Regions from separate parts of the Homo sapiens genome. Here region 2 is linked to region 1. The links come from fine-mapping of genetic effects on gene expression. A gene starts in region 1. The other region holds a variant in brackets. All regions are shown on one strand. Distances are between the middles of the regions. Region 1 holds the start of SLC28A3 (solute carrier family 28 member 3). Region 2 has its middle 28 kb from the start of SLC28A3.

Evidence for each region. PIP is the estimated chance that this variant, and not a neighbour inherited with it, causes the effect.
Region 2: its variant is fine-mapped to the expression of SLC28A3 in subcutaneous fat (GTEx, PIP above 0.99). The same link has a PIP of 0.9 or more in whole blood.

The regions. Positions count from the first base shown.
Region 1 is chr9:84,332,118-84,347,408 of GRCh38, reverse strand. SLC28A3 (solute carrier family 28 member 3) reads left to right here and starts at 6,651. Exons shown (of 18, transcript NM_001199633.2): 1 at 6,651-6,835. The coding sequence starts at 6,776.
Region 2 is chr9:84,360,997-84,376,287 of GRCh38, reverse strand. It overlaps a transcript of SLC28A3 not described here. Among named protein-coding and RNA genes, the nearest start is that of SLC28A3, 28 kb to the right of the region's middle. The variant C/A (reference allele first, on the strand shown) is at 7,694.

The DNA.
Region 1 (15,291 bases):
ATGAGTTGTGTTGCTAGAAAAGCCACTTTATCTCCCTGAGCTTCATGTGTTTCATCTGTGAAATGGGGATATTAATACCTCATGTGAAGACTTGTTATGAGGATAAAATGGAAACAACATAAGTATCTTAAAGGTATGTTGCAGCATTCAACAGTCACTAGTTCTCTTCCCTTCTTCCCTTTTTTTTTTTTTTTTTTTTTTTTTAGACAGAGTCTTGCTCTGTTGCCCAGGCTAGAGTGCAGTGGTGTGATCTCAGCTCACTGCAACCTCTGCCTCCTGGGCTCAAGATATTCTGCAACTGTGCTCCTGGGTTCAAGCTATTATCCTGCCTCAGCCTCCTGAGTAAATGGGATTACTGGTGCCCACTACCACGTCCGGCTAGTTTTTTGTATTTTTAGTAGGGACAGCATTTTACCATGTTGGCCAGGCTGGTCTTGAACTCCTTACCTCAAGTAATCCACCCACCTTGACCTCCCAAAATGCTGGGATTACAGGCATGAACCACTGTGCCCTGCCCTTCCCAAGATTCTCACTAAAGTGATACAGACAGCCAAATCATCCTTTAATTGCAGACAGGTATTACCTATGTGGCAGATTCTATGGCCAGTCTTTGGCTGTGTTAAGTGCTCTGGCTGGCCTTTCCTGGTATATAGTGTAAATGTCAGGGAAAAAACCTAACTGCAAGGAGAATTTTGTTGAAAAACAAATCCTGAAGCATTTCCTATGTCAAATACACATTTTCATTGCTTTCCTTTTTCCCCTCTTGGATGATCTGAACAATTGACAGTTAATTAGACTAAGCCTTATAAACCTCCCAGGATTACATTTTTATTATTAACATTAATATTATTTGATTTATTTATTTAACTACTTCAAGTTGTATAGACAAAGGTTAATCTGCACTACATGAAATGTTCTTCAGGGAGGAAGACAGGAGTCTGGAACATATAACACATCATGCTCAACATAGGACAAGCATTCTACACAATTTTTACAAATTTTCTCTTTACTCCTTTTGGAAATACCGTCACCAAGAGTGACTTCACTATAGAACTGCATGCATAAGGCAGGAAAAACAATCTATTGCCATGTAATTACTTATTTTTCCTTTCATATTTTAATAAAAATGGAGGACTTTTGTGTTTTGGTTTTCTTTAATGAGCTTGTGCGTAGACAGTCCATGAGTTTGCAAATTTTTATAAGCTGAGTTTTAGAGAACAGAACGGGGTATAGGAATTATTTGACTGAAAAGTCTAGTGATTTGGTTGCTACACAATGGTTTCAAAGTTTAAAATTGAGTTTGAGTGACAACGCAATGAAAATAATTCTGAGGAGTTAAGAGACAGTTTTTTAGTTCTTGGCACAAGCTATTTCTCACAAATAATGACTCTGCATGACTGGGGAATTGTTTAAAATGTAGTCTTGTAAAACTGAAAAGGCCTTTCATCTCATTTTCTGATCACAATTTCTATTTCCTAATTGGACAAAATGAGCCATAGCTTCTACCAAGGTGTTACCACTTTAAGTGATAGCCCCATAAATCAAACTAATTCTGGTGCTGCAAGGAGTCAGAATTTTTACTGGTTCTGAAAGCTCCTTAAAGATAGGCTTCAGAAACATACAATTTTAAATTACAAGTTCTCTGGATATGACCATTGTTTTGGCATTTTAGTATCATGGTTGTATATACAATTTACTCTAATTAGGTGTCAATTTTTCCTGCTGGCAGGTACAGTTGGAGAATGGATGAGGGAGGTCACTGTATCTTTTAATCAACACTGTCTAGTGTTGTGACTTGCACAATGATATGCTCCCCCAAATGTTGTTGCATTCTTTTCAAATTTTGTCTGCAGCCAAGGAGAAGAAAACACATCGTTACATTTCTAAAAGTTCCTAAAGCAGTGTCTGCAAGAATGTCAGGCATTGGAGTCACGTTTCTGCAATTAGAGGCTTTAAATGATAGAATGAAGATGTCTGTCTTTTGCTTCAGAAAGTAAGGATCATCCATAACCTTCAACTAGATTGAGTCTTGAGTTGGTGAAGGTTTTAATATCAGGTTGCACCAACTGGTTTCTTCCAACTAACGATTTCTCAAGGAAAGTTTCCCAAATATTTGCTGTCTATTTATCTGTACTTCTCTTGCTCACTTCCACTTGGATTTTTTTTTTTTTGCCTTTGGTAACACAATGACTACTACTTATGGCACATTGCAATGATGGGGAAGAACTAATGAAAATCCCCAAGTCTCATCAATAAGAAGCACGAAAGAGCTAAATCATAAAATTTGGGTGATGTTGAATTATGTGTCAGGCACTATTCCCTGTGTATATTAACTCATTTTATCATCTCAGCACTGTTTCTAAATGGGTATGTCGATGAAAAGAGTTGAACTCTGTTAAATATTTGAAGACATTTATTCTGAGCCAAATATGAGTGATCATGGCCCATGACACAACCCTTGGGAGGCCCTAAGAACATTTGCCCAAGGTGGTCAGGGCACAGCTTGGTTTTATACATTTTAAAAAGGCATGGGACATCAATCAAATACATTTAAGAAATACATTGGTTTGGTCCAGAAAGGCAGGACAACTCAAAGCAAGGGGAGGAGGGGGTTGGGCTTCCAGGCTATAGGGGAATTTAAACATTTTCTGGTTGACAATTGGTTGAGTTTGTCTCAAGACCTGGGATTCATAGAAAGGGAATATTCAGGCTAAGATAAAGATTGTGGAAACCAAAGTTCTTCTGAAGTTTTATAGTGGCTGCCCTTAGAGACAAAGGATGACAATGTTTCCTTTTCAAAATATGTCAAAGAAACATGTTTTGGGGTAAAATATTTTTATTTTCTTCCTTGTCTCATAATGTTATGCGAGTCAGGTTTGAAAGTAAGTCATGATATATAGGGTTAAATAAAACCCATCTGGGCCGGGTGCGGTGGCTCACACCTGTAATCCCAGCACTTTGGGAGGGCAAGGCAGGTGGATCACTTGAGATCAGGAGTTCAAGACCAGCCTGGCCAACATGGTGAAATTCTGTTTCTACTAAAAATGTAAAAATTAGCCAGGCATGGTGGCACACGCCTGTAGTCTCAGCTACTCGGGAGACTGAGGCAGGAGAATCACTTGAACCCGGAAGTCGGAGGTTGCAGTAAGCTGAGATCTGCCACTGCACTCCAGCCTGGGCAACAGAGCAAGACTCTGTCTGACCAAAAAAAAAAAAAAAAAAACCCATATGATGAGAATTTATGATTTGTAGGGCATGACTCCCCAGACCCCTTAGATCATAATTTGGGCAAGATAAAAAAAAAATCAGAGCTTAGTCCTCAGGTACTGTTATCTCCGTTTTATGAAGGAAGAATCTGAGATACAGAGAACTCAGCTACTTGCCCAAATTCCCATGGCCAGTAAGTCTTCCCACCTCAGCCTCCCAAGTAGCTGGGACTACAGGCACGTACCACCACACCTGGCTAATTGTTGTATTTTTTGTAGAGACGGGGTCTTCCTACATTGCCCAGACTGATCTCAAACTTCTGGGCTCAAGCGATTCTCCCATCTTGGCTTCCCAAAGTGTTGGGATTATAGGCATCAGCCAGGTAGTGGATATTTTGTCTTTGAGCCGTGTGGTATTTGTCACAGCTACTCAATTCTGTCCTTATGGGATGATAGCAGCCTTAGACAATACATAAATCAATGGCCATGTTTCTGTTTTTACAAAACTTTATTTATAGACACTGAAGTTTGAATTTCATATAACTTTAATGTGTCAGGAAATATTCTTCCTTTTAATTTTTTTCAACCATTTAAAAATCTAAAACCCATTCTTAGCTCTTGGGCCATATAAAAGCAGCAGAAGGTTAGGTGTGACCCTCAAGCTGTGGTTGGCTGTAGTTATGAGGTAGAGTCCAGGATTTGAACCCAGACCACAGGTTCCTGCAAGCCTTTAATCATTATGTATACACTGTACAGTCTGTATCATGATAACAAGAAAAGAAAAATAACTCCCACAGTCTGAGCTATGTGAGATATGCAAAATCTATCAGGCCCAGAGAGACTGGGCCTCAGTCACTGATAAAGAGAAAACAAAAATAACTCACACAGTCCCAGCTATGTGAGCAATGCAAAATCTATCAGGCCCAGAGAAACGGAGGGTTGGACTTCAGTCACCACTCAACCCTGTGCCCGGGGGCAATTTTTTTTTGCTTTTGTTTTTTGTCTTTTGTTTTTTTTTTGAGATGGAGTCTTGCTCTGTCACCCAGTCTGGAGTGCGGTGGCGTGATCTCGACTCACCACAACCTCCACTCGACTCACCACAACCTCCACCTCCTGGGTTCAAGCAATTCTCCTGCCACAGCCTCCCAAGTAGCTGGGACTACAGGCATGTGCCACCATGCCTGGCTAATTTTTGTAGTATTTAGAAGAGACAGGGTTTCACCATGTTGGCCAGGCTGGTCTCGAATTCCTGACTTCATGATCCATCTGCCTCGGCCTCCCAAAGTGCTGGGATTATAGGCGGGAGCCACTGTGCCTGGCCAGGGGCAATTGTTTTAAAGGAATTTTGTTCCTGACTGGCTGCCTTTCTGTTCCTAGAATGTGTGATACAAATAGCAATGTATAGCCAATCAATAGCTTATGTTATTTTAATGTAAATAATTGGTAAACAACTCAGAAACTCCTTCTTTTCCTTTAAAATTCACTTGTGGCCAGGCACAGTGCCTGTAATCCCAGCACTTTTGGAAACCAAGGCAGGTGGGAAGATTGCTTGAGCCCAGGAGTTCAAGACAAGTCTGGGCAACATAGTGAGGCCCCCAGTTCTACCAAAAAAAAAAAAAAAATTTAGCCATGGGTGATGGCACCTGTCTGTAGTCCCAGCTACTCGGGAGGCTGAGACAGGAGGATAGCTTCAGCCCAGGAGGTCAAGGTTGCAGCAAGCCATGATCATGCACTCCAGCCTGGGCAACAGAACACACACACACACACACAAGAATCTACTTGTAACTGCTACTAAGTGTATATTCAGAGCAACTTGAATATGTGCTCCCAAGTTGCAATCTCAAACTTAGACCAAATAAACTCTATACTTACATTAAGTTTGTCTCCGTTTTTTCCTTTAGGTTAACAATAATAAAAGTAAATCATTCTCTTTATAGAAAACTCAGCAGCATTTGAAGGAGAAAAAAAAAACACCAACTGCCCATAAAATTAAAAACCGAGAAATAACCACTCATAATACTTGGTATTTTCTTACTTTTTCTTTTTCTTTTTCTTTTCTTTTTTTTTTTTTTTTTGAGACAGGGTCTCACTCTGTCATCCAGATGGGAGGCAGCGGTGCGTTTTCGGCTCACTGCAATCTGTGTCTCCTGGGTTCAAGCGATTCTCCCGCCTCAGCCTCCCGAGTAGCTGGGACTACAGGCGCACGTTATCACTCCTGGCTAATTTTTGTATTTTTAGTAGAGATGGAGTTTCGCCATGTTGGCCAGGCTGGTCTTGAACTCCTGGCCTAAAGTGATCCACCCGCCTTGGGCTCCCAAAGTGCTGGGATTACAGGCGTGAGCCACCGCACCAGGCCTTTTCCATTCTTTTGTCCACAGTTTTGCAGTATTTTAAATTGTACTAGGGGGGAAAATCCCTATTTTAAAAGAATTCTACAGCTAATATTTTCATAAAGCAAAGTGAATTGCTTTATGAAAACAAAGCACTTCTATTCACTTTTGATAATTGAATAGCTGGTCACCTTTCATTTACTTGTCACATATCGGCATTTCTGTAAGCTGGATTTTTGAAAGCAGCCCAGTCTGAAGCAGGGATGTAATAAAAGGTTTTGGAATTAACCAAACTTGAATTTGAATTCTCATTATCCCTTTATTAGCTAAATGACACTAAACAAATTGTTAACTTTTCTGTACTTCAGTATAGAATTTTGAGTTGTTCGGAAGAAGAGCCAAGACCCTTACCTACCTACCTATCTGTCTATGTATCTATCCATCTATCCATCCCTGGTATACAGTAGGTGATCACTGAGGGCGGCATGACCTTATATCCTGTGTTCACTCACCCTCCACCCCACCACCACTCCTAGTCTTTAACACCACCCACAGGAAAACAGAGGATTTCACTAAGCACTATAGAGAACGTGTCCTTTTCTGGCTGGGCACGGTGGCTCATGCCTGTAATCCCAGCAATTTAGGAGGCCAAGGCAGGTGGATCACTTGAGGTCAGGAGTTCAAGAACAGCCTGGCCAACATGGTGAAACCCCGTCTCTACTAAAAATAAAGTCAGCCAGGTGTGGTGGCATGCACCTGTAATCCCAGCTACTTGAGAGGCTGAGGCAGGAGAATTGCTTGAACCTGGGAGGCAGAGGTTGCAGTGAACCGAGATTGCGTCACTGCACTCCAGCCTTTTTTTTTTTGAGACTCCATCTCAAAAAAAAAAAGAAAGAAAGAAAGAAAAAGAAAGTGTCCTTTTCTGTTTTGTGCACCACAAGAGTTTTCTCCCCAGGAGTGCAAATAGGATGCCAAAAATGGGGATAAAGGAAAAGATTAATAAGGTGGGCGGGCCAGCACTAGATGCCTCCACCCCGCCAACCCGCCCGCCTCTCTGCCCCACCCCAACCAGGTGTCAGCCCTAGTCATTCAGGAGATTATTGCAGAAGTTTCCAAACTGAAGCAAGCTGTGCCCAGGTCCCTGTAACAGCAGGTGGCTTTCTGACATCAGCAGAGACTGGTGCTTTTTCCCAGGTACAAAGGACCTCCAGACCAGAGCCAGCCAGCAGCAAAAAGAGCATGGAGCTGAGGAGTACAGCAGCCCCCAGAGCTGAGGGCTACAGCAACGTGGGCTTCCAGGTGAGCAGAGCTTTCCTCTTATGTTAAAGGCCTTCAGTGGAAAAGCTGCCCTTTCCTTAGCCCCTTGGCAAGTTTCTTACCTAAGCAGGGAGATTATCAGGACAATACGATTTTTAACGGCACACTTTAAGCCCATTATTTTTTCTTCTTGGGCTCTTCTGGGTTGACAAACCTGAAAAGTCTCTTTTAATCGATGTGTTGTGATCCCTATGGTCACTTAGAAACAAGACAGCCTTCTTCTCTTGCCTTTTTTCCCTTCTGGCTCACAGCAGGGGTCCATTATTTATCTTCAGGCACTTTTCCAAAGAACTGGTGAGAAGGGAAAAATGGGGGAATTTAGATCCTGGCTGGGGTAGTGTCTCAGGGTTCCTTTTACTCAAGCCAAGTCCTGGAGCCCCTGTCAGATGGCCCCGGTACCTGCCCCAGAGCAGCTGGATTACGCAAATCAGTCTCACTTCATCAACCAAAACTCACTGAGTGATTAATGCTGCTCAGCCCGAGGCTGGGTGCCCGCAGAGACATAGAAGGAGACCTGTCAGAAACACCAGGCTATTTTGACTGGGTCTGGGATGGGGATTTCCAGGGCTGTTTTTAGGTGTGCTTCCTTTCCTTAGCTGACACTCAGCATGGGCGCTCTGGAGAAGATGGGAAGCCTGCACCGGCAAGTGTCAACAATCCCTTGGACTTTACGGTCTGCTAGATGGGCAAAACAAAACTTTGAGGTGCTAGCCAAGAAAGGAAAGAGGGAGGTAAAAGGGCTTTGACAGGAGTTCAGACTCCAGCACCCACAAATTCCTGTAACTTCCCAGAGCCCAAGTTTGATCATCTGTCCCATGGTCACAGTGATGCCCATCTCCATGAGTAGGCATCGGGTTACCACTTATAGGTCACAAGTGTAGGAGAGGAAACAACTTCATCTACCCTCTTAGGTTGAGTGCCTGAGGCCTGCAAATTAAACCAACATAAAACAGATTAGCAGGAGAAAAGGCACGCAAATTTTATTCATATTTAAAATCTCACATGTGGCTGGCAGTGGTGCCTCATGCCTGTAATCCTAGCACTTTGGGAGGCTGAGGCGGGCTGATCATTTGAGGTCAGGAATTTGAGACCAGCCTGGCCAACATAGTGAAACCCCATCTCTACTAAAAATACAAAAATCAGCCGGGCATGGTGGTACATGCCTGTAGTCCCAGCTACTCGGGAGGCCGAGGCAGGAGAATCACTTGAATCTGGGAGGCAGAGGCTGCAGTGAGCCAAGATCGTGCCTCTGTACTCCAGCCTGGTTGACAGAGGGAGACTCAGTCTCAAAAAAATAATAATAATAAAATAAAATCTCACATGTATGAGAGCCTCACATAAAAGAAACGGAAAAACCTAATAGACTCAGGAGCTTATATACCATTAAAACAAAGCACGGCAAATAGTGAAATGACTAGACAAAGGAAAAGAGGGTTATGCTTTTAGGGACAATAAAGTGGGGGTGGGAGGTGGAAATAATGGAAGATAAGGGTTAATTTATCGAGGTTTGTTCATGCAGATTTATCTCAGCGGCATCTCTGTCTTTGGTGATAAGGGTTGCTCTCTTCCTTGTATGAGCAAGCGGGACACCTGTGCAAGGGAAATATCAATAAATGTGCTGCTTTTAGGAAGATGGGGGATGGGGGAGGGCAGAGAGCTCTTTCTGTGTCTGCTTTCTTTTTCATAGCCTTCAGTTCAAAATATTCTTGTGCCAAAATGTGGGCATTTGGAGGGTGGCACATCCTGATCTCTTCTCTAAGGGCTAAGTGAGGGGGAAAAGCATAAAGCATGGGCCCATTCTGATTCCAGAGAATGGAAAGGATGGAATTGGATAGAGTCAGAGGAAGTATGGCAGCAAGAAAATATATCTGCAATAGAGAAGGTCCATGTCACAGCAACTGGCTGCTCCCAGGGAGGAGGGCACACAACGGTGGTGATCCCTCACTGTCTTCTAGCAAAACTGCTGTTTTGTGGGGGAAACATCCCCCTACACCTGCCCCAATAAAAAGAAGGAAAAATGAAAGGAAGCTTCCTCCTAGTTCTGTAAAATTTCCTGTCATCCTTACTCATTGGATTGATTGAAATTTGAATTTCTACATTTCAAAATCAAAATAGTGAAGACAATTTGTCTTTCAAGAGAATCAGAGGCCTCATAACTCCTGCCAAGTTAATAAGTATGAGTCTTACCTTGTTTGACATTCAGCTCTCCTGCTACATTATCTTCTTTAAGGAAAATTAATTGATTGTAAAATATGTGCTACTTCACTCGCATTATTAAATATGCATTAACATGCCACCAGGACTTCCAAATAAGTTAGGATGCTTACTTATTCACCTTGTCCTAGTCTGTGAATTGTGCTAGAAATTCATTTTTCTTCTTCAAATATTAAGAGTGCCCTTGGTAGACCAAAGTTCTAATTTTACTAAGTAGAACTACTTTCACAGCTTGAAATGCTGATATGGGTTCCCAAAAGGCCTGTGCCTGTAAGACCTGGTGCAGGTGCAATGGTTATGCATATCTATGGATTACCTGGACAGGCTCTCATCTGGACTGTTCCTCAAAGAAGGGAGCACCAATTGCTGTTTTCATGGAGCTAGTACTCCAGTGGGAAAGGTTAAACAGGAGCACAAAGTCAGTGATATGGGTTATAAGAGAGAAATGATCTCACCTCCAAGAAAGGATTTCACAGCTAGAGCACACTTCATACATGAGAGTGGATTTTGTAACCAACGATAGAAATGAATGTTAGGGTTTTTTTTTTCTAATCTCATTTTATTGTACCTCTAAACGTTTTCTATGAATAAGGAACTTATTTCTCATATGGCTGAGGATGGAAATGACTTCATTCAACAGTAGTTGCAAATAAGACGTTTGCTATTTATGAAGGAAGTTCGGATTGGCATTTAAAGTATTGCGTGTATGTGGAATATCTAAGGATTTCTTATTTTATTTTAAAATATTTTTTAAACCTTAAAACAGTCAGCAAACTGGCTCTTGATTTTGTGCAAGATGTTCCCATCAGTTCAGGAAAAATAACTGCCTGAAAGGACAAAGTACACACACACACGTGTGCAAACACTCACACCCACATACGCATACACACACGCGCGCGCACACACACAGGCTAGCATCCCCAGGCCTCAAGGTTCTAAGCAGGGCATCTCAAACCCAGCAGAGTATCATACCAACAACACCCACACCTAAAAACAGTGACTGGGTTATTTCTATTTATTCAGTAGAATCATCAACTGCCCCCTAGATATGGCCGCCTCTAAGAAGGGATACCAACTCAAGAAAGAATAATATGCTCTTCTTGCCCTCAAGGAGAAGGACAGGCAGAAATAAGCATGCAATTACAATATAATTGATGTTAAGGAAAATGGCGGAGGTTTGCACCAAGTGCATTGTATTCTTATATTTATTATTTTTTATATTTTGTCTTGCTATCTTACCAGGGCTGGTCTGAAACCCTGGCCTCAAGCAATCCTCCTGCTTTGGCCTTCCAAAGTGCTGGGATTACAGTCATGAGCCACAACACCCAGCCAGCACCAAGTGCATTGTAAATAATATATAGCTGGAGCTGAGCTGACTGAGGAGTCTGTGACAGCATCACCAAAGGAGGGAGAATTTGATTAGGGCTTTAAGGATGGTCAGGTCACAGTAGGAGGTGGGGTGGGCAGAGCACTGCAAGCAGAGAGAACTATCTGTACAGACTCAGAACCCTAAAGGAGAAGAGCACATGAGCCTGGGATGGAGGAAGGGAACACGGTATAGGGAAAGGGGGCAGGCTGGCATCAGGTCAGGTGGCCTCTGCGTGTGCTAAGGCATTTTAGAAGGAATCGCTCAGAATTTACGCAGTCAAATTGTGATTTTTTTTTTGAGACAGGGTCTCACTCTGTCACCCATGCTGGAGTGCTATGGTATGATCTCAGCTCACTGCAGCCTCAACCTCCCAGGCTCAAGCAATCCTCCCACCTCAGCCTCCTGAGTAGCTAGGACTACAGACATGCGCCACCACACTTGGCTAGTCTTTGTTTTGTTTTGTGTTTTAGAGATGAAGTCTCACCCTGTCGCCCAGACTGGAGTGCAGTGGCATGATCTTGGCTCACTGCAACCTCCACCTCCTGGGTTCAAGCAATTCTCCTGTCTCAGCCTCCTGAGTAGCTGAGTTTACAGGCATATGCCACCACACCTGGCTACTTTTTTTGTATTTTTAGTAGAGACAGGGTTTCACAACGTTGGTCAGGCTGGTCTCAAACTCCTGACCTCAAATGATCCGCCTGCCTCAGCCTCCCAAAGTGCTGGGATTACAGGCGTGAGCCACCGTGCCCGACCTAATTCTTGTATTTTTTTGTAGAAATCGGGTTTCACCATGTTGCCCAGGCTGATCTCAAACTCCTGAGCTCAAGTGATCTGCCTGCTTCAGCCTTCCAAAGTGCTGGGATTACAGGTGTGAGCCAACTGCACCAGGCTGATTTTTTTTTTTTTAATATTACTTTGGTGGCCCCATTGAAAGTGCTTGGAAAAGGAGAGGGATTTGTGTGTGGCTGGGACATCCGTTGGGAAGTTACTGTCATAATCCAAACCAGGCTAAAGGCAGTGGATGCAGACACTGGGACGGAGGTACTAATACTGATGAGGTGACCCCTCCACAATGAAATTCAGGAGTAAAGATGAGGGCCTAAATGCTGCTCTGGCTCTGAAGATTTCTGTTTTCTCCTCTGTAAAAGAGCATAATAATGGTACCTATCTTGGGATTGTTGAAATAATTAAATAAGCTAATATTATATATGTATAATGGACATTTTATACACACACACACACACACACACACACACACACGTATATACATACTTGTGAAAACAGTGCCTGGCACATAGTATGAACATAACAATAGCAGCTTTTGATGCTGAGCAGCTTAAGGAAAGTGTGGAGTCAATGTTTCCAGCTTGGGATGTCAACTTGGAAGTGATTCCCTTTGTTTATTTATTGCTGTTGTTTTAAATAGAGACAGGGCTTCACTCTGTCACCCACGCTGAAGTGCAGTGGCACAATCATAGCTTATTGCAGCCTCAAACTCCTGAGCCCAGGCAATCCTTTGACCTCAGCCTCCTGAGTAGCTGGGACTACAGGCACGTGCTACCACAACTGGCTAAGTTTTTTTATTTTTTATATTTGTAGAGACAGGGTCTTGCTATGTTGCCCAGGCTGGCCTCTAGTGATCCTCCCATCTCTTCCTGGGTTTCCCAAAGTGCTGAGATTACAGGTGTGAGCCACCTCACCCAGCCTCGGGCAAGGCTTTATTTAGGTAGAAAATCTAGGAATAAAGTTAGAGCAAAAAAGAGAGTGAGTTCTCTTTGAGGCCTGTTGGTTGAAATTAAGTTGACTCCAGGCATCTTCATGAAGGGGTAGATGAAGTAGGAAGCTTGTAGCATACGTTCACCTGGAGCTCAGAAGAGGACACACATTTGGGAGCTGTTAGCATAGATATGAGCGCGGATAAGACCACTGTGAGGGAAGCCTGGGAAACAGTAGCGCTTAAGGAGTGGGGAAGTTAGAGATGTCAGAGAATGAAGCAGAGGGCCACAGGGAGAGAAAGAGCAGCAGAACCAGGAGAGGGGCGATCTGGAGAAGTCAAGGGAAAGTAGAACCACAAGTCAACAGAAAAGACTCCGAAAGGACAGAGGAGTCTATAGAGTGAGGCCACGGGTTCACTTGACTTGCCAGCTAGGAGGTTACTGGTGACGCTAGGGTTGGGGAAGGAGGAGAAGTTTGTGTTATGAGCGGGAGTTAGGCTAGGAAAAATGGTAGCAGAATGAACGCTCTTCTGGTGCAGTGGTGGTGCTAGGGAGGGGCGGGGAAGGGGAAGACCTAGGGCAGGCAAAGGCAGTTGTGGGGAGGTGTTTTTATGTTAAAAAAAAAAAAATTCGTTGTGAAATACAACATACAGAAAAATACATAAAAACAAATATACAACTTATAAGGCGAACTGTCACTCAGGTCAAGAAACAGGATATTGCCATCCCTCAGGGTCCAGCCCTACACATTTCATCACTGCTGCCTCCCTTCCCTGGGGTAAACCCAACCAGGGGTGACTACTGACCCAAATGTGGGGCAATTACTTCCTTGCTTTTCTTTATACCTTAACTTCTAATTATGAATCCCCAAGCAGTACCTTTGCCTGGTTTTGAACTTTATATAATAGAAACACAAAATGTATTCTTTGCTTATATTGAAACTTTTTTTTTGTTTTTTTGAGACAGAGTCTCGCTCTGTTGCCCAGGCTAGAGTGCAGTGGCGTGATCTTGGCTCACTGCAACCTCTGCCTCCCCAGTTCAAGCGATTCTCCTGCTTCAGCCTCCTGAGTAGCTGGGAATACAGGCATGAGCCACCAGGCCCGGCTTGTATTTTTAGTAGAGACGGGGTTTCACCCTGTTGGCCAGGCTGGTCTCAAACTCCTGACCTCACGTGATCCACCCGCCTTGGCCTCCCAAAGTGTTGGGATTACAGGCGTGAGCCACCATGCCTGGCCATCAGCTCTCTAAGATTCACATGGTGTTGCATGTAACTGCAGCTCATCCCATTTCATAATGCACAGGATTCTGCCATGTAAATATTCCACAACTTATACATTTTGCTGCTAGTGGACATTTGCGTTATTAAGTTTGGGGTTTTTGGAGCTTCTACAAACATTGCAGCTAGGGACACTGTTATCCATGCCAGGGGGAGTATCTGTAATAAATTTACTCTGGGGTTGTACTTAGGAGTGGAATTGCTAGGCCACTGGAATAAACATATACTTTCAACTTTGCTGATAGTGTCAGATTGGTTTCCTAAGTGATTTTACCAATTTGCATGCCTATCAGCAGAGTGAGTATTCCCATTTCTCATCATTATTCAGCTGACCTTTTAATGTCAACCATTCTGGTGGGTGTGTAGCAGTATGTCATTGAGTTTAATTAAAATTTTCCTGTTATTGGTTGTTAGATGCCAACTTTTTAAATATTTGCTCAACTTTCTTGCCCATTTTCTCTACTGGATTTTTTCCATTTTTATTTGAAAGAGTTCCTTAGATGTTCTGGTTACAAGCCTATGAAAGGAAATTAAATTTTGGGACCCCAAACTCATTTAACCAAAGGGAAAAGTCAAGCTGGGAACTGGGTCACGCATACCTATCTCCCCCTTTTGGTTCCTAAATAAGATGGCTACAAGATGAAAAGCTACACGCTTCCCCCATGTTTTGCCCACAAGGAAATTCCTGGTGAGCTATAAAAACTTCACCATGGCAATGTAATTGATAACTTATCTTTACAGGTGCAGTCACCCCAGATACAAATGCATATCTGATTGTTCCCCTACCCCATTTCGTCTGTATTATCTTATGTAAAATGCAGATTCTCCACATTTTTCCTTTGCCCCCTTTGTTTACATGAAAACTGTGTGCTTCTCACTATCCCGCCCTTTCTCCTTTAAATTTGGAGCCCTCAAAATCATCTCTGGAGAAAGGGATAGACCTGTCTCCCAGGCAGTTCCTTAACTTTGGCAAATAAATCTGCTAAAATGATTGAGACTTGTCTCATCATTTTCCTCGATTGACAAGCCCTTTGTCAGTTATGATTTGTAAATACCTTCTACCACTGTGAAGCCATCTTTTACTCTAATGGAATATTCTGAGGAACAAAAGTTAATTATATTGGTCCCATTTAGGAAACATTGGGACAAAAGTTAATTATATATGGTCCCATTTAGGAAACGTTGCTTCTCTTTCCTGTATCTTGTCTAAAATATCTTTTCCAACCTGCAAAATCATGAAGATTTTTTTTTCGAACAAGTGTAACTCTTTATTAAGATAAAATTGTTTTTATTAAAGAAATAGATAAAAATGATTAAGTACAATCAAATGGCTCCAAAAGCCTTACAATGAAAGCAACAGTCCTGCCAGTTGTTCTTTCCAGAGGCAAGCACTTCTCATTCTCTCAGTTTTTCCTTCTGGTAGTTACCTTCATGGGTTTTTCCAATTATTATTTTTTTAGTTTTTCAAGTGAATGCATATATTAATACATGAAATTTTTAAAAGCCTCTTCAGTTTATAATGCATCCTACCAGTCCCCTACCCTATCCCTCCTAATTCTCCAGAGCAATGACTTTTAACTCTTTTAGCAATGTCCTCTATTTTTTTCTCACATAACTACTTAGGCATTTCTTGATTGTTTTATACATTATATAGTGATTTCTTGATATGACAGATGAGGATTTAGCTCTTACACCATCACTGTCTTCACTTTTCCTCCCATATTGTCCCAAAGTAGTTACCAGATTTAGAGGCTAAGCAGTCATCACTTCATTATGACAATGTCCATATTGCTCATTGTTGAGAACAACAGGGTATTATGCTCTAAAGTCATTAGGATATTTTCTAAAAGCTTATACTTTCATT
Region 2 (15,291 bases), 29 kb before region 1:
GACCTGAGGTAGTGGAATGGAAAAAGAAGGGACACATACATTTGAGAAAAACTTAAGAGGTAGATGGGACAAGTTTGGTGACTCAGAGTCAGCCTTGATTCTTGTCTCTCCTTCACAGCCCACATCTGCTCTGATAGCAGGTCTTATCTCCCCTACCACGACACAACCAGTTCTGCACTGCTCAGCCCCGGGCTCTCAGACTGTTATGATTAGCATCTAATGTTCTTCTTGCTTTCAACCCTAATCCATTCTCTACAGAGCAGCCAAAATGTTATTTAGAAATGTAAATAAAATCACATCCACTCCCCATCTCAAAATCCTCACATTGAATAAAATCAAATTCTTTAATCTGGCTTTCAGGACTTGGCTCTGATTTCCTCTCCCACCTCATTGCCAATGTTCCCCCACTTCTGTGCTCCAGCCTTTCTGTTTTTCACCAGCTAAGCTCAGGCCCACCCAAGAATGCCTGGAACTACCACTTTTCTATGCTGAGAATTCTTTCCCTGCCCTCCCATCAACCAAGCCCCTCCCTGGCCTCATCCCTTCCCCATGTCCCAAATATAGTGCTCCCCCCATAATTGCCAGCAACAGTGGTTCAACATCAGTGCAAAATAGTTGTCCATTATCTTAAGAAATTGAACACTCATGTCAATATCAGGCTTAATTGTATACCCCAAGAATTATTGCACATGTGCACAAAAAACATATTCAAGAATGTTCTTAGCATTGTTCATGATAAAAAGAACTGGAACAATTCAAATGTTCATCAGTGGAAGTTTGGATAAGTAAATGGTAGCATTGATACAATGGAATACTATACAGCAATAAAAATAAATAAACCGGCAGGGCACAGTGGCTCACACCTGTAATCCCAGCACTTTGGGAGGCCGAGGCGGGAGGATCGCCTGAGGTCAGGAATTCGAAACCAGCCTGGCCAACATGGTGAAACCCTATCTGTACTAAAAATACAAAAATTAGCTGGGCATGGTGACTGTAATCCCAGCTATTCTGGAGGCTGAGGCAGAAGAATTGCTTGAACCCAGGAGACGGAGGTTGCAGTGAGCCGAGATCGCACCACTGCACTCCAGCCTGAAGTGCAAAGCTCCATCTCAGAAAAAAATAAAAAAATAAAAATAAGTGAACCATAGCTACAAGCTTCAACATGGATGAACTGAATCTCAGGAAATAATGTTGAGGAAAAAAGTGAATTAACAAGTTTCAGAATACACATAGTATGATACTATTTTTTATAAAGTTCAAAAATAAGCAAAACAAAAAATGTATTTTCTAAGGGTACATATATGGTCATCAAATCTATAAAGGAAAGCAGAGATAACTTTCTGACAAGTTTAGGAGGTCACCTTAAGGAATGGTACCCCAAGCACCTTAAGTTGGTTACTTTCAACTGTTCCTAAATGCATGATGCAAATGCCACTTGGAATTGCACCAGCCTTCTTCTAATTCTCGATGATCAGAAAGTCCTTCCTAGACTGGGTTTCAATAATGCCCAGCACAGCTTGATACTGGATTAACAAAGTATTATCATCTCCAGGCAACCAATTTGCTGCAACTTGCCAGCATTAGCAGCATTTTAATCTATAAATAGAGATTTAGATCTCAACCGCATGAGAACAAGACTTCACAAACAAAGAACTCTGCTTTGAATCAGATGTTAGAGAACCCCTTCCTGAGGTTCCTCCCCTTCAGAACCATTTTCTTCTTCCCTTGCTGTGTGACTGTCAGAACCAATCTCAAAAAGGATTTTTCTTGGCAATGTTTGCTTTCTGTTAATTTCTCCCACAACTCTTATTAAAATATCCTTCTTTGTTGGGAGATGGGAGATGTGAACAAGCTTGAAAATTCAAAGTGCTAGTGTTAGGCATCTGAGTGCAATTCATTCACTCATCACAGTGTTATTGCCCCCTTATGATGTGTAAGGAGCTGTGTGGGGAACTAAGGAGAACACAAAGACAAACGTGACATTGTCCAATTTTTCAAAGAGTTTTTAACCCAATAGAAGGAACAGACGTGTAAATATTAATAAATTGCAATAGTACAAGGCATAATGTAACCATTCACACAGGGGCTAGGAACTTGGCTCATAGTCATTCTGTGTAAACTTGGGCACGTGACCTAATGTTTCCAGGCTTCCTTTTTTTTTTTTTTTTTCTTTTTTTTTTCTTTTGAGCTGGAGTCTCACTCTGTTGCCCAGACTGGAGTGCAGTAGTACAATCTCGGCTTACTGCAACCTCTGCCTCCTGGGTTCAAGCAATTCTCTTGCCTCAGCCTCCCAAGTAGCTAGGATTACAGACACCCACCACCACACCTGGCTAATTTTTGTATTTTTAGTACAGACAGGGTTTCACCAAGTTGGCCAGGCTGGTCTCAAACTCCTGACCTCAAGTGATCCACCTGCCTCAGCCTCCCAAAGTGCTGGGATTACAGGCGTGAGCCACCACACCCAGCCTGGGCTTCACTTTTGTTATCTAGAAAATGGAATAGGCCAAGTGCCGTGGCTCACGCCTGTAATCCCATCGCTTTGGAAGACCTAGGCAGGTGGACCACGTGAGCCCAAGTTAGAGACTAGCCTGGGCAACATGGTGAAACTCCGTCTCAACAAAAAAATAGAGAGAAAGAGAGAGAGAGAGGAGAGAGGAGACAGGAAGGAAGGGAAAGGAAGGGAAGGGAAGAGAAGAGAAGGGAAGGGAAGGGAAGGGAAGGGAAGGGAAGGGAAGGGAAGGGACTTGTCTCATATCATTAATGAGAGGAATGAATGAAACATGCATATAAGGAATATGCTACAGGACCTTACCACTCAATGATGAACCATTCCTGTCATTACAAAGTACCCTGGAAATACACTGAAGGGGCCAATTCAGAACGTCTTGTGCCTTTGAGGACAAAAGATTTTACAACACTGTAGACTTGAGTTAAGGCAACCATTTGGAGACAGTACAGGGTGGGTTAAGAGAATTCCAAAGTGCTAAAGGGTCCACTGCACCCCACGATCAATCTGTAAAGGCAGTAGAAGGCCAGAGAGGACCAAGAAGGCTGTGGGTAGGAATTCAGCCACGATTCCATAGACAAGGCATTAGCTCCTAGGTCCAGCCAGAGAGCTCAGCAAACAGTCCGCTCTGAGTAAATGCGAGCATTCTCTTTTTCTAACGAAATCCTTTCCCTCTGACCCTGTATCCCTTGTATTTGAAATAAGAGCAATCTCCAGGGCTCTGCCTGTCTCTACCCCACCTGCTCAGGCACATGATGTTAACCAGGTTCTGATTAGTAGACCATTTACCATCTTAGTATTTTATTTTAATAAATATCAATATCCTCCTCTGGTCTGGCATAAATAAATCACTGCCACCTTGTTCTTCCAGCCATATAAATTCTATTTTGCACTTTTTTTTTGAGTGACAGAGGTTAAAAAAATAGAATAAAATTATGCCTTAATTATGCTGTCAAAGTTTTCTCCAACATTTATCAGGCCTACAGGGGTGGACGAGAACCAGCATGAGGCAAGGCTATGTTTTCAAAGATTTAAAGATGCATAAAATTAATCTTTCATAAGAAACAGATGTACTGTAACTAAATAGAACGAAGAGTTTTATGAAAACGACAAACCCTAACTATAACCCACCAGCAATGCTAAGTTGAAAGCTGAGAGTGTCATGAGCAAAAATAAAGATAAATTAGGGCTACTAGGGGAAACTAAAGATCTGACATCGCCTAAAACCAGGCCAGACAGGGCTTGTATTTAGAGCTCATTAGTTTTGCTTAAGCTAATCCAAAGCAGAAGGTGGCCCTAGAAGCACATAGGCCAAGAAGACATGGGTTCAGTTAGTTTACTCTCAGTACAGCAGCTGAGTGCTGATTTTAAAATGTAAATTTGGAGGCCGGGAGCAGTGGCTCATACCTGTAATCCCAGCACTTTGGGAGGCCAAGGCGGGTGGATCACTTGAGGTCAGGGATTTGAGAACGGCCTGGCCAATATGGCAAAACTCCGTCTCTACCAAAACTACGAAAATTAGCCAGGCGTGATAGAGCGTGACTGTAATCCCAGCTACTTGGAAGGCTGAGGCAGGAGAATTTCCTGAACCCAGGAGGCGGAGGTTGCAGTGAGCCGAGATCACAGCCACTGCACTCCAGTCCCGGCAGCAGAGTGGGACTCTGTCTCAAAACAAAAAAAAAAAAGTAAATTTGATCATGCCATGCCCTACAGAGTCCATCTTCATCTGACTTCATCTTCTACTCCCTCTCCCCAGCTCCTCCACCCTGACCAGGCTGCAGTACTTCTGACACAACTTCATGCTCCCACGTTAGGGCGTTTTTAACAGTTCTTGCCAGTACTTTGACCACAGATATCTTCTTGCACAACCTCAGTGAGTTCACCCTATGAATACTGAGAAATATGAGCCCTCCTGCCCCCTGGCATTTCAAAATCCCTTCCTCTACCCAACTTTTTCCTTTTTTTCCACAGCACTTACCACTTTTAGCATAATACAGTGAACCCATTTGTTATATTTGCTGTTTCTTTTCTCTCTTAAAAGTATTTTTTTAGTTTCTTTTTTAAATTTTAATTTTTAAAAAATCTATGAGGGAAGCAGAGCAAGTTGGCAGAATAAAAGGCTCCACCAATTATCCCCTCCCCAAAAAAAAAACTCCTTAAATGGGAAAACATTCCATGCTTATTCATAGGAAGAATCAATATTGTTACAATGGCCATACTGCTCATTGAATTTATAGATTTAGTGCTATTCCTATCAAACGACCAGTGATATTCTTTACAGAACTAGAAAAAACTATTTTAAAATTCATATGGGCTGGGTGCTGTGGGTCACAACTGTAATCCCAGCACTTTCGGAGGCCAAGACAGGTGATAATCTGAGGTCAGGAGTTCAAGACCAGCCTGGCCAACATAGTGAAACCCCGTCTCTACTAAAAATACAAAAATTAGCTGGGAGTGGTGGCCCACTCCTGTAATCCCAGCTACTCGGGAGGCTGAGGCAGGAGAATCGCTTGAACCCAGGAGGCAGAGGTTGCAGTGAGCCAAGATCACGCCGTTGTGCCCCAGCCTGGGTGACAAGAGTAAAACTCCATTTTGGAAAAAAAAAAAAAAATCAAAGGGTACCAAAAAAAGACCTCAAATAACCAAGGCAATTCTAAGCAAAAAGAATAAAGCTGGAGGCATCACGCTACCCAACTTCAAACTATACTACTACAAACTATACATCAGGGCTACAGTAACCAAATAGCATGGTACTTGTACAAAAACAGACAGATAGACCAATGGAACAGAATATAGAGCCCAGAAATGAGACAACACATCTACAACCATCTAATTTTCGACAAAGTCAACAAAAACAAGCACTGGGGAAAGGACTCCCTATTCAGTAAATGGTGCTAGAATAACTGGCTAGCCATGTGCGGACTATTGAAACTGGACCTCTTCCTTACACTACATACAAAAATTAACTCAAGATGAATTAAAGGCTTAAATGTGAAACTAAGAACTATAAAAACCCTGGAAGACAACCTAGACAATACCATTATGGACATAGGAACAGGCAAAAATTACATGATGAAAATGCCCAAAGCAATTGCAACAAAAGCAAAAATTGACAAACGAGATCTAATTAAACTAAAGAGCTTCTCCACAGCAAAATAAACCATCAACAGAGTAAAAAGACAACCCACAGAATGGGAGAAACATTTCGCAAACTATGCATCTGACAAAGGTCTATTATCCAGCATCTATAAGGCACTTAAATTTTACAAGAAGACAAACAACCCCATTAAACAGTGGGCAAAGGACATGAACAGACACTTTTCAAAAGAAACATATATGTGGCCAACATGCATGTGAAAAAAAGCTCAACATCACTGACCATTAGAGAAATGCAAATCAAAACCACGATGGATACCATCTCACACCAGTCAGAGTGGCTATTATTAAAAACACAAAAAGTAACAGGGGTTGGTGAAGTTGTAGAGAAAAAGGAATGCTTATACACTGTTGGTGGGTGTGTAAATTAGTTCAGCCATTGTGGAAAACAGCGTGGCAATTCCTCAAAGATCTAAAAAGAGAACTACCATTTGATGCAGCAATCCCATTTCTGGGTATATACCCAAAGAAATATAATCCTTCTATTATAAAGACACATGCACACATATGTTCATTGCAGCACTGTTAACAACAGCAAAGACATGGACTCAACCTCAATGCTCATGAATAGTAGATTGGATTAAAAAAATACAATATCTATACACCATAGCATACTATGCATCCATAAAAAAGAATGACATCATATCCTTTGCAGGAACATGGATGGAGCTGGAGGCCATTATCCTTAGCAAACTAATGCAGGAACAGAAAACCAAATACTACATGTTCTCACTTATAAGTGGGGACTAAATGATGAGAACATATGGACATAAAGAGGGGAACAACAGACACCGGGGCTTACTGGAGGGTGGAGGGCTGGAGGAAGGAGAGGATCAGGAAAAATAACAAATGGATAATAGGTTTAATACTTGGGTGATGAAATAATCTGTACAACAAACCGCTGTGACACAAGTTTACCTATATAACAAACCTGCACATTACCCCTGAACTTAAAAGTTAAAAAAAAAAGAACCAAAAAATCACATGAGCCCTCAAAGTACCCCCACCCCTCCATTCCACGCTTGACCCCAGCAGTAGCATGGTGCGGAGCGCGTCTCTGGGCACTGAGGGAGGGAGTAAACAGCAGTTGTAAGGCATTGAACTCAGTGCTGTTCTGTTAGAGCAGAAAGGAAAACTAAACCAAACTCAGCTAACACCCACCTATTGGGGGAGCATTCAAACCAGCCCTAGCCAGAGGGGAATCGCCTATTCCAGCTGTCTGAACTTGAGTTCCCACAAACCTCACCACTGAGGGCTACAGTGCTCTGGGACTCTAAAAAACCTTAAAGACAGTCTAGGCCGTAAGGGCTGCAAATCTTAGGCAAAAAAAAAAAAAAAAAAAAAGTAAATGTGATCATGCCATGCCCTACAGAGTCCATCTTCATCTGACTGCATCTTCTTTTTTTTTTTTTTTGAGACAGAGTTTTGCTCTGTCGCCCAGGCTGGAGTGCAGTGGCATGATCTTTGCTCTCTGCAACCTCCGCCCCGCTCCGGGTTCAAGCAATTCTCCTTCCTCAGCCTCTTGAGTAGCTGGGATTATAGGTGCCCAGCACCATGCCCGGCTAATTTTTGTATTTTTAGTAGAGACAGGGTTTCATCATGTTGGCCAGGCTGGTCTCAAACTCCTGACCTCAAGTGATCCACCTGCCTCGGCCTCTCAAAATGCTAGGATAACACATGTGAGCCACCACGCCTGGCATGACTTCATCTTCTACCCCCTCTCCCCAGTTCCTCCACCCTGACCAGCCTGCAGTTCTTCTGACATGACTTCATGTCCTAGGGCTGAACTGGGCCCAGAGACAGTGGACTTGGTGGGGGGGCAGGGGTGTGGCATGTGACATACTGAGACACCAGCTGGGGTGCCCCTCCTCTAACTCCAGGCTGCACAGCCCTCCGCTGCATAAGACACTCCTTCCTTCCTCTTGAGGAGAGAAGGAAGAGTGGGGAGGACTTTGTCTTGCATCTTGGATGCCAACTCAGCCACAGCAGGATAGGGCACTGGGCAGAGTTGTGAGGCCCCCATTCCAGGCC[C/A]CAGCTCCCAGATGACATTTCTAGACACACCCTGAGTCAGAAGTGAACCTGCCACCTTGAAGGAAAGGACCCAGTCCGGCCAGCATTCAGCATCTGCTAAATGAAGAGCGCTTGGGACCTGAACAACCAGCAGCGATACCCAGGTACTGTATCAGTGTGGGGGAAAAGAAGAGAGATCAGACTGTTACTGTGTCTATGTAGTAAAAGAAAGACATAAGAAACTCCATTTTGATCATATTAAGAAAAATTGTTCTGCTTTGAGATGCTGTTAACCTGTAACTTTAGCCCCAACCCTGTGCTCATAGAAACATGTGCTGTATTGAATCAAGGTTTAAGGGATTTAGGGCTGTGCAGGATGTGCTTTGTTAACAATATGTTTGCAGGCAGTATGCTTGGTAAAAGTCATCTCCATTCTCCGTCCTTTATTAACCAGGGACACGATGCACTGTGGAAAGCCACAGGGACCTCTGCCCAAGAAAGCCTGGGTATTGTCCAAGGTTTCCCCCCACTGAGACAGCCTGAGATATGGCCTCATGGGAAGAGAAAGACCTTACCATCCCCCAACCCGACACCCATAAAGGGTCTGTGCTGAGGCGGATTAGTAAGAGAGGAAGGCCTCTTTGCGGTTGAGATAAGAGGAAGGCCTCTGTTTCCCGCATGTCCCTGAGAATGGAATGTCTCCGTGTGAAGCCGACCATTCATTCTACTCTGAGATGGAGAAAACCGCCCTATGGCTGGAGGCGAGATATGCTGGCAGTGATACTGCTCTGTTACTCTTTGCTACACTGAGATGTTTGGGTAAAGAGAAACATAAATCTAGCCTACGTGCACATCCGGGCACAGTACCTTCCCTTGAACTTATTTATGATGCAGATTACTTGCTCATATGTTTTCCTGCTGACCTTCTCCCCATCATCACTCTGTTCTCCTGCCACACTCCCCTTGCCGAGATAGTAAAAAATAGAAATCAATAAATACTGAGGGAACTCAGAGACCAGCGCCGGTGCAGGTCCTCGCATGCTGAGTGTGCGGGTCCCCTGGGCCCACTGTTCTTTCTCTATGCTTTGTCTCTGTGTCTTATTTCTTTTCTCAGTCTCTCGTCTCCACCTGACGAGAAACACCCACAGGTGTGGAGGGGCAGGACCCCTTCAATCAAGGGCCTAGGGTGAGCCTCTGAAACTTGCTAGCTTCAGATACCAGCACAGCCACAAATGGGCAAAGCACCAGGCAGGCTTTTGGGGTCACATATTTCAGGACCTGGCTTGTGGATATCTCTGGACCTGCCCTGGGCCAGAGGGGAGCCCATTGCCCTGAAGGGTGAGTCCCAGGCCAGGCAGCATTCACCACCAGCTGACTTAAGAGACTTTGGGCCTTAAGAGAATATTGGCGGTAGTATGGCAGTACTTCCTGTGGAGTACTCCCCGTGGCCTGCGGTGGTGGTGGCTATGAAGTGAGGCTCCTCTGCCTTTGGAAAAGGGAGGGAAGAGTGGGAAGCACTGTGTCTTATGGTTTGAGTGCCAGCTCAGCCACAGTGCAGGTAGACTTCTAAGGTTTTCATTCTACTCCCTGAGGCCCAGACAGCACCTCTGGACCCACCAAAGGCCTGGGGGAGCTTGCTGACCTGAAGGGAAGGACACAGGCCTGACTAGCCTTGTCACCTGTTGACTGTAGAGCCCCAGGGCCTTGACAGAACATAGGCAGTAGCCAGGAAGTGGTTACAGAAGGTCTTGGGTGAGACTCAGGGCTGTGCTGGCTTCAGGGCTGACCCAGCACAGTCACAGTGGTGGTGGCCACAGAGGTGCTTGTGTCGCTCCACCCCCAGCTTTAGGTGGCTCAGAACAGAGAGAGAGATTCTGTTTGTTTGGGAGAAAGTAAGGGAAGAGAACAAGAGTCTCTGCTTGGTAATTCAAAGAATTCTCCTAGATCTTGTCCAAGACCATCAAGGAAGTACCTCTACAAGTCTGCAAGAACCACAGTGTTGCTGAGCTTGGGGTGTCCCCCAAAGCAGATATAGCTTAGATTACAACACTCTAGACCTTTCAAATATCTGGAAACCCTTCCCAAGAAGGACAGGTACTAACAAGCCCAGACAGTGAAGACTACAATAAACACTTAACTCTTCAATGCCCAGACACCAAAGAACATCTACTAGCATCAACACCATCCAGGAAAACAAGACTTCACCAAATGAACTAAATAAGCCAACATGGACCAATCCTGGAGAAACAGAGATATTTGGCCTTTCAGACAGAAAAATCAAAATAGCTGTGTTGAGGAAACTAAAAGAGATTCAAGATAACACAGAAGGGTCAGAACTCTATCAGACAAATTTAACACAGAGATTGAAATAGTTTAAAATAAGCAGAAATTCTGGAGCTGAAAAATGCAACTGGCATATTGAAGAATGCATCAGAATCTTAATAGCAGAATTGATCAAGCAGAAGAAAGAATTAGTGAGCTTGAAGCCAGGCTGTTTGAAAATACAGTCAGTTTACAGCCATACCACCCCGAATGCACCCAATCTTTTTTTTGTTTTTTTGTTTTGAGATGGAGTTTCACTCGTGTTGCCCAGGCTGGAGTGCAATGGCACGATCTTGGCTCACCACAACCTCTGCCTCCTGGGTTCAAGCAATTCTCTCACCTCAGCCTCCCAAGTAGCTGGGATTACAGGCATGTGCCACCACGCCTGGCTAATTTTGTATTTTTAGTAGAGACAGGGTTTCTCCATGTTGGTCAGGCTGGTCTCGAACTCCCAACCTCAGGTGATCCTCCCACCTCAGCCTCCCATAGTACTGGGATTACAGGTGTAAGCCACCACGCCCAGTCTTCGAGCACACCCAATCTTGTCTGAAAATATACAGAGACAGTAAAAGAATAAAAAACTGGATATCCATATGCAGAAGAATGAAACTAGAACCCTATCTCTCCCCATATACAAAAATAAATCAAAATGGATTAGACTTAAATCTATGAAACTACTACAAGAAAAGTTTGGGAAAAATCTCCAGGACATTGTTATGGGCGAAAATTTCTTGAGAAATACCCCACAAGCACAGGCAACCAAAGCAAAAGTGAACAAATGGGGTTATATCAACTTAAAAAAAACTTCTGCACAGCAAAGGAAAAATAGCAACAAAGTGAAGTTTTGCAAACTACTCATTTGACAAAGGATTATAATCAGCATATATAAGGAGCTCAAACAACTCTATAGGAAAAAAAATCTAATAATCCAATTTAAAACTAGGCAAAAAGATTTGAATAGACATTTCTCAAAAGAAGACATTTAAATGGCAAACAGGCATATGAAAAGGTGCTCAACATCACTGATCATCAGAGAAATGCAAACCAAGATTACAGTGAGATAGCATCTCACCCCAGTTATAATGGGATATATCCAAAGACAGGCAATAACAAATGCTGGTGAGAATGAAGAGAAAAGGGAACTCTTGTACACTGTTGGTAGGAATGTAAATTAGTACAGACACTCTGGAGAATAGTTTGGAGGTTCCTCAAAAATCTAAAAATAGAGCAACTATATGATCCAGCAATCCCACTGCTGGGTATATACCCAAAAGAAAGGAAGTCAGTATATTGAAGAGATACCGGCACTCACATGTTTGTTGCAGCACTGTTCACAATAGCTAAGATTTGGAAGCAACCTAAGTGTCCATCAACAGATGAATGGATAAAGAAAATGTGGTTCATATACACAATGGAATACTATTCAGCCTTAAAAAACAATGAGATTCAGTCATTTGCAACAGCATAGATGAAACTGGAGATCATTATGTTAAGTGAAATAAGCTAGGCACAGAAAGACAAACATCGCATGTTATCACTTATTTGTGGAATCTAAAAATTGAAACAATGGAATTCATGGGCATGGAGAGTAGAGCATGGTGACCAGAGGCTGGGGAGGGTAGTGGGGGTCTGCAGGGGAGGTAGGGATGGTTAATGGGTACAAAAAAAACAAAAAGAATTAAAAAGACCTACTATTTGATCACACAACAGATTGACTATAGTTAATAATTACTTAACTGTACCTTTCAAAATAACTTAAAAAAGCGTAATTGGCCAGGCACAGTGCCTCACACCTGTAATCCCAACACTTTGGGAGGTGAAGGCAGGAGGATCACTTGAGGCCAAGAGTTCAAGACCAGGCTGGGCAACATAGCAAGACCTTGTCTTTACAAAACAAAGGTCAGGCGTGGTGACTCATGCCTGTAATCCCAGCATTTGGGAGGCTGAGGTGAGTGGATCACCTGCCAACACGGCGAAACCCCATCTCTACTGAAAAAATACAAAAATTAGCCGGGCATCAAGGGTGCATGCCTATAAGCCACTCGGGAGGCTGAGGCAGGAGAATTGCTTGAACCTGGCAAGCAGAGGTTGAAGTGAGCCGAGATCGTGCCATTGCACTCCAGCTTTGGTAACAGAGCAAGACGCCATCTCAAAAAAAAAAAAAAAAAAAAAAGAGTGTAACTGGATTTTTTGTAACACAAAGGATAAATGCTTGAGGGGATGAATAGCCTATTTTCCATGATGTGATTATTACATATTGCATGCCTGTATCAAAACATCTCATGTACCCCATAAATATATACACCTACTATGCACCCACAAAAATTAAAGATAAATTTTTTTAAATCTATGAAAAAAGATAATTTTAAAAATCAAAGACAAACTTTGGTCAGTATGGAAATCAGGCCAGTCTTGGTGGCTTAAGCCTGTAATCCCATCGCTTTGAGAAACCAAAGCAGGAGGATCATTTGAGCCCAAGGGTTCAAGACCAGCCTGGGCAACATAGTGAGACCCCCATCTCTACAAAAATAAACAAATGTTAATCACATGTGCAATTTATTGGAAACACAGTGGGACATGGGTATCCCAACTTCCCATTCTGACTCAGAATGTCTGGGGTGGGGCACAGCCATCTTTTATCTTTTTCTCTGTTAGCAAAACACTTAGATGATTCTGATAAATGCCCTAATCCCATCTACTAGTGAAACTAATAATAATATGGATGTGACAGGATTCAATTCGTGAATATTGAGTGCCTGGCACAGAGGAAGTGATCATTATTTCTGTATTCCCAGCCCTAGAGCACCTTGCTTGCTGTACCGTTTTGGTTGAAAAATAGTAGCTGAATGAACAATGGGAATAGTCCAGTAAAGAGGAATCTTAGTCATCAGTGTACATAATAAATACTTGAAGGTTATGAAGAATACAGATCCTTGATTCCTTCCCATAGACATTTTCCTGCCTTGACTTATTGATTTCTCCCCTCTTGGTTCCTCTCCTACATCACTGCCTGTGCCTTCTCAGTCTCTTTTAAGCTCCTGTACCTTCGTTCAATCTCCTAATATAAGAACATCCCAGATTAGTCCTAGGGACCCTTGTTCTTCTTTATTTACATACTAGTAGATTTCATCATGTTCCATAGCTTTAAATATCATTTAAGGGTTTATGAACTTGAATGGGAAAAAATATTCTATCTTCACTAATCTCTATCTGAAAGTTAATATTTCTTTCATTCGTAAATAAAGCAATGGTACTGTCATATCTGGAGCTCTGTCACCATTCACGAACATGTTCATATTACATTACAGTTATTCCAGACATCCAAAAATATTTTTATCTTTTTTACTACTTGCAAATATGTTAGTTATTAGATTTATAAATCTGTTATTTAATGTATTAATACAAGAGTTATTATATTACTTTATCACAATTTTTTAATACCTACTTATATTTTAATGCAGTTTTCCTTTGCAATCTTATGTATTTTATTTTATGCACTTAAAAGCATCATTCTGAGAAGAGGGCTGTAGGCTTCACCAGACTGCCAAAGCGGTCCATGGCATTTAAAAAGTTCATCACCTTTGATTTAAATGACAATCAGTCCTAAATTTATTTATTTATTTATTTATTTATTAACTTATTTATTTTAATTTTTTTTTTTTAAACAGAGTCTCACTCTGTCACCCAGGCTATAAGGGCAGTGGCCCGATCTCGGCTCACTGCAATCTCCGCCTCCCAGGTTCAAGCAATTCTCTTGCCTCAGCCTCCCAAGTAGCTGGGACTACAGGCATGCACCACCACACCTGGCTAATTTTTGTATTTTTAGTAGAGACAGGGTTTCACCATGTTGGCCAGGCTGATCTTCAACCCCTTACCTCAGGCAATCTGCCCACCTCAGCTTCCCAAAGTGCTGGGATTACAGGTGTGAGCCACAACGCCTGGCCAAGTCCTAAATTTCTATCTTTAGCTCTGACTTTATTATAGCTCCAGCCTCCTTGGCATCTCCACTTGTGTGTCCAGTAGCATCTCAATATTAACAGATGAAGCCCTGGGGCTCTCCCCCAGACTTGCCCCTTTCCCAGTCTCTGCCTCATTATCAGCCTCCCAATTGTTAAAGTTCGAACTCTAGATCCAAGTTACTGCATTCCACTTTCACTCACCTTCAGAACAGCATCTGAAATTCTCTAGTCAACAAGTTTTAGTAACACAAAAAACACTAATAAGTCGGGTTGTCCTGGGAAAAGTCAATTTGGTTCTTTTAATTAAAATAAGGGACACGAAGTACTGGAACACTAAGATGCATTTCCTCAGCAAACCTCCAAACCCTTTCCCTTAGCTGTTACTAAAAATTAATTTTTATTTATTTATTTATTTATTTATTTTTAGAGACAGACTCTTGCTCTGTCGCCCAGGCTACAGTGCCATGGCGCAATTGCTCACTGTAACCTCAAATTCCTGGCTCAAACGAACCTTCCGCCTCAGCTTTCTGAGTAGCTGAGACTACAGATGTCAGCCATTGTGCCCAGCTTATTATTTTTTTTTTTTCCACAGCTGAAAACTCAGAAGTTCATATTGCCTCTTTTGGGGGGAATCTACCCTAGGGGCGTACAGATCAGGGTGGGATAGGCAGATCCTCTAAGATAGGTTTATCACGCCCAGGCAGTACGCATCCTCACAGGGGACAAAACACTCTCGCGGGAGAGCTGGGCCTGAATCTGTCATCCCGAGAGCCTTTCACCTGACAAATCAGAGAGGAGGCACGAGGGAGCACAGAGATCATCTATGGCTTCAACGGTAGGTACAGAGAACAGCATTTCTTTTTCTGAAAACAGGAAAGACATTTTAAGTTGGAAATCCTGTTTCCTGACTTCTTCGTGTAACTCAATAAGCATGTGATGGCTCATATTCTGAAATAGCCTGTAACCCTATTTGCATGTTTAACCTTTTTTTGAGACGGAGTCTCGCTCTGTCACCAGGCCGGAGTGCAATGGCGCGATCTCGGCTCACTGCAACCTTTGCCTCCCAGGTTCAAGCAATTGTCCTGCCTCAGCCTCCCGAGTAACTGGGATTACAAGCGCCCACAACCACACCCGGCTAATTTTTTTGTATTTTAGTAGAGACGGGGTTTCACCATGTTGGCCAGGATGGTCTCTATCTCCTGACCTTGTGATCTGCCCACCTCGGCCTCCCAAAGTGCTGGGATTACAGGCCTGAGCCACCGCACCCGGCCTGCATGTTTAACCCTAAAAATCGTTCTGGTTTGGGATTAATTGTTGACAATCAGCTCATTTAGCAAG